2 linked regions of the Homo sapiens genome follow. The protein of the gene in region 2 purifies or fractionates together with the protein of the main gene of each other region. This does not show direct contact. Each region holds a gene or a part of one and is shown on either strand. Other genes may lie near its edges.

Region 1 (4,066 bases), on a different chromosome or scaffold from region 2:
TGAACAATTCCAGCATAAACTGTGCCTCACAAAATTTAGATATTCTGATTCTTCATTCCTCAGAAACGAATGCTGTACAATTCCATGGGCCAGGCCAAGGGAGGGAGCCAGTGCAACCAAGCTCACCAGGCATCCGGCCGGATCCACCACTGGACTGGACTTCACGGTTCTAAGGTGTCAGGGTTTGAAAAGTTCCAAGTAACCTCCACTCTCCAGGGAACAGCAGAGATGAAAGAGATCAAAACATCCACAGTCTCAAGTACTCTCGACCGCCATCCCATTAAGCGAGGCAGAGCATTTCTCCCAGAGGAGCCACCTACCCAAAACTCACACTGCCACCTAGGAACTGCTACAGAAAATTCTAGTAAATAAGCCCCAAATCTATATTAATGTCCCCTTCCCCCATATAAAAAAAAAGACTAAATAATCTGAGTTTACATGATTTAGAAATTAGGATTTTACAGAGTCCAGGAAAGGAAAAGGAAGAAATTTAAAGAAATTCTTCATTTTTATAAAAGCATGAGAGAGCACTGAAAACCTGCCCTTAAGATGTTCTTAGGTACATATTTTAGGATTTTTATTGCTGATTACAGATTTGAAACTATGAAATGTGCACTGCTTGGCAAGTAACACAAGTAATTCTTTACTTATTCACATTTCCAATAAAAGCGTAAATAAACAGACAAAAAATATAAAGGACAAGAGAAATACAAATAGCAACAGCTTCAAAACAAAAGGATTTAGTAACAGAAAGTCTCCACAGTGTCCGTCAAAATTTAAGATTATCCAAACCGTGCAAACGCTCAACACAAACCAACGCCATACACTGAACTATTAATACTTGTCCCTTGAAGTTGCAAACTAGAAGCCACCCACATAACTGTATGATCACACAAACCAACTAATTTGCTCAAGGTTCAGGTTAAAGCAACATTTAATATCCTTTACAAGATGGAATTCGTGACAAGTTCAAAAGGAGAACTTCCTTTGTTTTAATGCAGCTGTGCTCAGAAGCCTGTGATTTCCTAGGAAACCATCTGGGTTTAGCCCATTAGAAAAATGCAGTTTAAAGCAGTGTCACACTGGCTGCCTGAAGGTACCCTTGGAGATACTGGAGCGCTTCTGCATTCAGGCTGGTGCTCACCATTGATGGAACCTACAAGAGATGGGAAACACACACTGGCTGTTGGAGATCTTGGTGCGCCAATACAAACCCCATCTTCTACGGGAGAGCTGCCACAGCTCTGGGAAGAGCAGCCAGTCAAGTCATTAATCACCATCCAAAAATTCTCCAGAAACTCAACTGCTTTTATGCCTTCAAAAATAGGTCTAAAGAAAAGATCCATAAGGAATTACTATTATTAGGTGTGATAGTGGTATTGTGGTTAATTAAAAAGTCCTTACTGGTTAATGATGTAGAATAAGGTACTTACGCGTGAAACGTATGATGTCTAAGACTTGCTCAATACAGAGAATAAAAGGAGAAACGAAACAAAACTGGCAAGATATTGGTAATTATTGAAGCTGGGCACATGCAGGCTTCATTATGCTCTTTCTATATATGTTTGAAAGTCTCCGTAATAATACAATGAAAAAATATATATACATATATATACACACGCCACACACATATATGTTTTTTAAGAAACGGGACCTCGCTCTGTTGCCCAGGCTGGATTGCAGTGGCACTGTAATAGCTCACTGCAGCCCTGGCCTCCCAAAGCACTAGAACTACAGGCATAAACCACTGTGTCTGGCTTGAAAAATATATATTTTATCAGGTAACATGTAAGAACTCTATAATAAGTGCTGACAAAATGCAACTATACAGTCATTATTAGGTTTATGCCATGATCTATTAATTTCTGAGTATGCTGCAATTAAAAAAAAATAACTGTGTCCAGGCTCACACTTGTAATCCCAGCACTTTGGGAGGCTGAGGGAGGAGGATGGCTTGAGCCCAGGAGGTTGAGACCAACCTGAACAACATAGGGAGACCCTGTCTCCACAAAAAAATAAAAAATTAGCTGGGCATAGTGGGTCCTAGCTACTTGGAAGGCTGACAGGCAGTAGGATCACTTGAACCTGGGAGGTTGAGGCTGCAGTGAGCCATAATCGTACTACTGCATTCCAGCCTGGATAAGAGTGAGACCCTGTCTAAAAAAATAAATAAATAAAAATAAAAATAAAAAAATGCTACCACATTTTAATAATAGATGGATTACTTCGATCTGGGAAATAAACTCTTATTATAAAGTGCTGACAAAATGCAACTATACAGCCTTATTACATTTCTATTGAAGGGATTTTTCCTCCTTTGTTCTCACTCCTAAATCCATTCACTTAAAATATATTTGTAGTACATAATACAAGAAAAAAAGGGCTCAGTGTTTTTAATTAAAGAAAATAAGCTTGCTGTAACTCAATGAGATTTAGTTTTATTACGCCCACCAATGAAAACAGACACCAGAACTACTACTATCCTTTTGCCCTCCCATTAAAGTCTCCATTTATCACAGAGTTCTTTGACAACACACTTACCCTTCCTGGACAGGCGGTAGACAACTTGTGAAGTGACTGTGCCAGGTGAATTTTGGGGTTATTCACCATTTGACCTACAGGATCATGCTCTTTTTTCCCAGCAAATGCCAACTGTGAGAAGGCAGTCTGATATCCTGGTGTATCTTCTATGTCAATAAAATGTTCCTCATCAGGAATGGTATCATCTTCGGGTAACTCAAAAAGACCAATCAAAGACTGTAATAATGGAGTCCTGGATTGGAAGAAAGCAAGAGATAAAAAGGTCAAGAAAATACTCGGAAGACTTAAAACCAGCAATTGCTCAGAGACACAAAATTACAGACTCATAGTCTCAAGAATAAAAGGGGACCTTTGAAATTAAGATGGTTCTTTTCTTGGCTTATTCAGTTCTTCCCCTTAAAGATAAGTCAGTTTAGTTGGGCTTCTGTCATAAAATTGTCTTAGAGATCACCTAGATCAGACTCTTAAAGGGGTCCATGAATCCCCCTGAAAAAGAAGCAGGAAACAAGATCATTCTAAGCCCAGAAGGATCCAGAAATCATGTCTTGGATCTGATTGTGGAGAAGCTGAGATCAGACCAAGATTCTCTTGGCCCCCAAGAGAATAAGCTTTGTTAATTTTGCAGTCATATGGGAAGGAAGCTGTAACTTACAAAAATATTAAAATGAAGTACTTACCACAGTTTGGTATACTCAGTGTCCATCATTGGGGGACATTCTGTTAGTAATTTGGTTATGCCAACCGCACAGATCTTTTTCTCTACATTTCCAGATACCTTCTGAATTTCAGGAATAATAATTTTTTCCAAAACCATTCCAAACATTCTATTAAAGCAAAATAAATCAACTTAATATTAGATTATCACTATAATGAAATAGTAAAATGCTTAGATGTTAGTTACTTCTTATGAATATGATAAATTACTAAATAACAAGACTGCTGTTTTTGATCATCTGAAGAGACTGAAAGTCAAAACATAAAAAAACCCCATCACACCTCTACCCTGTAGCCAAATGCCATAATCTTTTTCTTTTCTTTTTTTTTTTGAGACGGAGTTTCGCTCTTGTTGCCCAGGCTGGAGTGGAACGGTGTGATCTCAGCTCACTACAACCTCCACCTCCTGGGTTCAAGCAATTTGCCTGCCTCAGCCCCCTGAGTAGGTGGGATTACAGGTGCCCACCACCACGCCCGGCAAATTTTTGTATTTTTAGTAGAGATGGGGTTTCATTGTGTTGGCCAGGCTGATCTCGAACTCCTGACCTCAGGTGATCCACCTGCCTCAGCCTCCCAAAGTGCTAGGATTACAGGCGTGAGCCACCATTCCTGGCCCTCTCTGCTTTTTTCTTTAAAAATTACACCTGGCCAGTCTCAAAAAAAAAAAAGAAAAAAAAAAAAAAAAGAGAGAGGAGCAAGGAGGGAAAAAAGGAATCATCCCACCACCCAGAAACAACTAGTTTTAACATTTTTGGGTTATAAGCTTCCCAACTGTCTTTGCTTACATACCTGCAGGTACATAAATGCTAAT
Region 2 (5,368 bases):
TTGTTCAGATCTACAGAACTGCATTTACTTTTTATGTCTGTTGCTGTAATACTCAATGCTAAATAAGATATAATTTTTTTTTTTTTCAGACGGAGTCTCGCTCTGTCGCCCAGGCTGGAGTGCAGTGGCACAATCTCAGCTCAATGCAACCTTTGCCTCTCGGGTTCAAGCGATTCTTCTGCCTCGGCCTCCTGAGTAGCTGGGATTCCAGGTGCTCGCCCCCACGCCTGGTTAATTTTTGTATTTTTAGTAGGAACAGGGTTTCACCATGTTGGCCAGGCTGGTCTCAAACTCCTGACCTCAGGTGATCCACCCGCCTTGGCCTCCCAAAGTGCTGGGATTACAGGTGTGGGCCACTGCGGCTGGCCAGAAATAATAAATTGTATACTGACAACTTCGATTACATAATCAAAGAGGACAACTTGGATTGAAAAGAAACTTCTATAGAAAAGAACATTTTCTGCAGGTTATTTGACAGAACCTGAATACTGATTTCAAAAACTGGAAAATATCAAAGGAGAATATATTACGGATCTAAGATGCCAATATTTGGGTTTGTTTGTGTATCAAAGTCATTCTGCTAAGGCACTAAGTCAATGCACAACATCTAAAACTCAAACCCAACTCCTTTTTGTCCAACACTTCCACCTCCTGAAATATACAAATGTTAATATTTTAGATTCCTATGAATGGAAAGCTTTCCTGCAGGCTCAAGTAGACAACATGTTTGTGTCACTTACTGGTTTTATACTGTGAGTAATGAGCCACACCATAAAGATTCTTGAACTCACTTGGACCCCAGTCACAATCACAGAAGTAGGTACAATTCCTTAAAAAGAAAAACAAGTGAACTATTGCCCTAAAGGCAATTTATAATAAAAGTATAAAATTGAAGCAAAAACTCACCAATTAAACAGTGAACTATCTGTAAGCAAATAGAAAAAAATCATTACGTCAATAATAGAAAACATTAAATAAACCACTGTCAACATTGGCATTCAGCAAATCCATAGGTGGTATGTAATCAGCAAAATCATATTGATTTTGCACAACAAAAAATGTTCACATAAATATTACAGCAATAGAAAAACAGCATGATGGAAAACTTACCTCAAGCAAGGCAAATGTCTGGAAAAATTTAAGTGTCTTCTGAATACTTTTATATAAACCTCTGTGTGTTCCTTTTTCCATATAAAAACGTACCATGGCAATAGCTAGAACCAACCACCTAAAAAAAAAAAGTATTTCATAAAGTTCTTTCGAACTTAATACCACTGATTTATACATTTGTGTTTACAGCAGCGTTATTCAAAATAGTGAAAAGGTAAAAGCAACCCAGGTGTCCATAAGTGAGTGAATGGATACTTGAAATGTGGTCTATACAGGCCTGGCACGGTGGCTCATGCCTGTAATCCCCGCACTTTGGGAGGCCAAGACGGGCGGATCACGAGGTCAGGAGATCGAGACCATCCTGGCTAACACGGTGAAACCCCGTCTCTACTAAAAATACAAAAAATTAGCCGGGTGTGGTGGCGGGCGCCTGAGTCCCAGCTACTCAGGAGGCTGAGGCAGGAGAATGGTGTGAACCTGGGAGGCGGAGCTTGCAGTGAGGCAAGATCACGCCACTGCACTCTAGCCTGGGCGACAGAGCTGTCCGTCTCAAAAAAAAAAAAAAAAAAAAGAAATGTGGTCTATACAGACAATAGAATATTAGCCTTAAAAAGAAAAAGAAATTCTGACATATCATGCAACACGGATAAACCTTGAAGACCTTATGCTATGTGAAATAAGCTAGGCACAAAAGGACTAATACTGTATGATCATTTTTTTCTTTAAAAAATTTCTTTTTTTGCATTATGTGTTGCTGTCATCTTTAACAAAGAACAATTATTGGCTGATTGATTGAGACAGGGTCTCGCTCTGTCACCCTGGCTGAAGGGCAGTGGCGCAGTCTTGCCTCACTGCTGCCTTGACGTCCAGGGCTCAAGCGATCCTCCCATCTCAGCCTTCCCCATAGCTGGGTCTACAGGTGTGCGCCATCATATCCAGCTAATTTTTGTATTTTTTGTAGATATGGGTTTTCGCCATGTTGCCCAGGCTGGTCTCAAACTCCTGAACTCAAGTGATCCATCCACCTCAGCCTCCCAAAGTGCTGGGATTACATGGAGTGAGCCACCATGCCCAGCCTGTATGATTTAATTTATATGAGGTATACACAGGGTAGTCAAATTCATAGAGACAGAAAGTAGGATAGTGGTGGCTAGGGGCTGGGGACAGATGGGGCAATGAGGAGTTAGCGTTCACTGGGTGCAGAGTTTCAGTTTTGCAAGATGAAAAGTTATGGAGACAGAAGGAAGTAATGGTTACACAAAAATGTGAATGTACTTAATGCCACTGAACTTACACTTTAAAAAGTTAAGATGGGCCGGGTGCAGTGGCTCACACCTGCAATCCCAGCACTTTGGGAGGCCGAGGCAGGTGGATCACCTGAGGCCAGAGGTTTGAGACCAGTCTGGCCAACATGGTGAAACCCTGTCTCTACTAAAAATACGAAAATTAGCCAAGCATGGTGGCGCACACCTGTAGTCCCAGCTACTCCGGAGGCTGAGGCAGGAGAATTGCTCCAACCTGGGAAGTGGAGGTTGCAGTGAGCCAAGATCACGCCACTGCATTCCAGCCTGGGTGACAGAGCAAGACTCCATCTCGGGAAAAAAAAAAAAAAAGTCATCAATTAATATTTACTTAATTTTCACTAAAAACAACAACAACAACAATTGCTGAGCCACAGATAGAAGATCAGCCATGGGCCTGCTTTCAAAAAGGTTGTTTAAAAAAAAAAAAACAAAAGAAGAGGCCAGGCATAGTGGCTCACCCCTGTAATCCCAACACCTTGGAAGGTTGAGGTGGGTGGATCACCTGAGGTCCGGAGTTTGAGACCAGCCTGGCCAACATAGCAAAACCCCATCTCTATTAAAAATACAAAACTTAGCCGGGTGTGCCGGTGGGCACCTATAGTGCCAGCTACTCGGGAGGCTGAGGCAGGAGAATTGTTTGAACCCATGAGGCGGAGGTTGCAGTGAGCTGAGATGGTGCCACTGCACTCCAGCCTGGGTGACAGAGTGAGACTCTGTCTCAAAAAAAAGAAAAGAAAAGAAAAAAACAGCCTGGGCAACATGGCAAGATCCCGTCTCTACAAAAAAAAAAAATTTTAGAGGCATGGCGGCACATGCCTGTGGTTCCAGCTACTTGGAAGGCTGAGGTGGGAGGATCACTTGAGCACAGAGGCGCTGGTTGCAGTAAGCTATGTTTGTGCCACTGCAGTCCAGGCTGTGCAACAAAGACCCTGTCTCAAAAAAAACAAGAGAGAGAGAAAGAAAAAAGAAAGAAAAAAATACTATATGCCCTCGCTTTTAAACTTACGTTTGCATATAAATATAGCTTATGTTCTGTGAATAATAATCGTGCTTTAAATATAAGCTAGAGTTGTGGAGACCAGCTTTCTCATACTACTTCTTACTCTTCCTAAAGTCACCAATAAGAAGTTTATTTTTTTCCAGTTTCCCCTGCAATTCCAAAAGCACGTTTAAGTTTAAGCAACTTACCTCATCTGTAACTTTTTAAAAGCTCTAATAACTCACCCAGGGAAATGAGGAGCTACCCTAGTCTTTTAGATAGTCTCCAAAGAGTCTAGTAAGTAGATTTATGAAATATAAAATTATCATGCAGTTTTAACTTTTTTAATCAAAGAACACTCATACAGTGGACAAATGGCTTGAAAAGATTCCTGCAAAGAATCTACTAACTGAATCTGATGAAAATGCATTCTCAAGAGAATAATAAGATGGCAGAATGACACTTCTATTCTTAGAACATAATAAGGTAAAAGCAATGACTTGTTTATCAGATTGGCAAGAAGTCAAGTAAATATCTGAAAGGACCACAAGGACCTTTGAAATGCAGACATATTCATGATAATAACAATGACAATAATAAGTGTATTGTCAGAGTGCTTTCTATGTCTTAGACACTGTTTTCAATTCATAACATATTAACCTCAAATCCTCACAATAACCCTATGAGGCGAGGGTCTTCTATTATCCTATTTCACTACTGAGGAAATAGGCAGAGAGGGTCACACAGCCACCACTAAGCTCGGAGTATATGCTCTTAAGCCACTATGCTGTGTCGGTCTGGCTCTAAGTATATACTGTGCCCTGAGATACCAGTTAATGATAGCAATTCATATTTACATTATAAATATATTTTTAAAGTTATATGGAGAGTCTATGCTCAAATATTTTAATTGATAGTAGCATGCTATCCAAAAAGTTTGAAGGCCACTCTTTTAGATGAGATAATCATCTTCCAGAACATTCAGTTACTTACCCTGAGTCTTAGAGTAAGTTCATGACTGAGTCTGTAATAGAACCTCTGCAGTCTCTAGACTCCCTAGTCCTGACCCCTTTCCACTCTACCCCAGCTTCACTGTGGCTACAACTGATGGATCCATCTCATGTGAGCGCCAACACTGAACTGGACTGATCCTACAGCACTCATCGGAATCATGCTTTAGGTACCTTCCACAACTAAAGTATTATGATTTCATTATCTTCAATTCAAAGTCCCCATATTTCTTCTACTAAGAAAACAAAAAGTTTATTAAGATATTTTCATTCACATTTTCCATACACTTGTCTTTTTTAGGTGAACCCAAATCAGATGTCCACAAAAGATAAGTTTGAGAGGCAGTTATTAACCTACCAATCAAAGGAGTCATTTGGATGGCAAGTTTTCTACATTTTTAAACAGCATTGTATAAAAATCCATGCATCGTTAACATTATAACAAGTTCTACTGTTGCTCCATAGGTGGCAGTATTGTACCACCTAGCATAGTATCATGATCGTGCCACTCACTAAACTGTGGGAAATAAAAGAAATTGACAGGCTCAGGGATTTGAAAGGACCCATCGAAACATCTATTCTAACCTCTTGTCTGTTTTTCCTAAGTAAGGCCAGGAGCCAATTGAATCAGGGTTCACTTCCTAAGCCCTCCATCAGAAAGGGTGACAGTCAAAGAAAGTCTCTTTAAGGGTCCTATATTGAACTAGTTTTGAACTTCCTTCATCTATCGGTTTAGTAACTATAATAAAACAAACAGAAAATATTTCAAAAGCAACTGGAATTTCTGCAATTAGGATTTTTTTTTTTAGACAGATTCTCGCTCTGTCCCGCAGGCTGGAGTGAGTGGTGTGCCCATGGCTCATGGCAGCCTTGGGTTCCCAGGCTTCAGCAATCTTCCCACCTCAGCCTCTCGAGTAGCTGGGACCACAGGGGTGTACCACCATACCTGGCTCATTATTGTTCTT

Evidence for each region.
Region 1: the proteins of HACD1 (region 2) and CSE1L purify together in Homo sapiens (affinity purification with mass spectrometry; one large-scale study listed by BioGRID and IntAct). This does not show direct contact.

The regions. Positions count from the first base shown.
Region 1 is NC_000020.11:49,093,439-49,097,504, reverse strand, and holds the end of CSE1L (exportin-2), read right to left. Parts: intron 3,366-4,066; coding exon 3,219-3,365; intron 2,774-3,218; coding exon 2,542-2,773; intron 1,330-2,541; coding exon of another isoform or gene 1,318-1,329; exon of another isoform or gene 1,157-1,317; coding exon 1,067-1,156; 3' UTR 556-1,066; downstream 1-555. UniProt on the Homo sapiens protein: Export receptor for importin-alpha. Mediates importin-alpha re-export from the nucleus to the cytoplasm after import substrates (cargos) have been released into the nucleoplasm.
Region 2 is NC_000010.11:17,602,820-17,608,187, forward strand, and holds part of HACD1 (very-long-chain (3R)-3-hydroxyacyl-CoA dehydratase 1), read right to left. Parts: intron 1,229-5,368; coding exon 1,111-1,228; intron 926-1,110; coding exon 907-925; intron 830-906; coding exon 741-829; intron 1-740.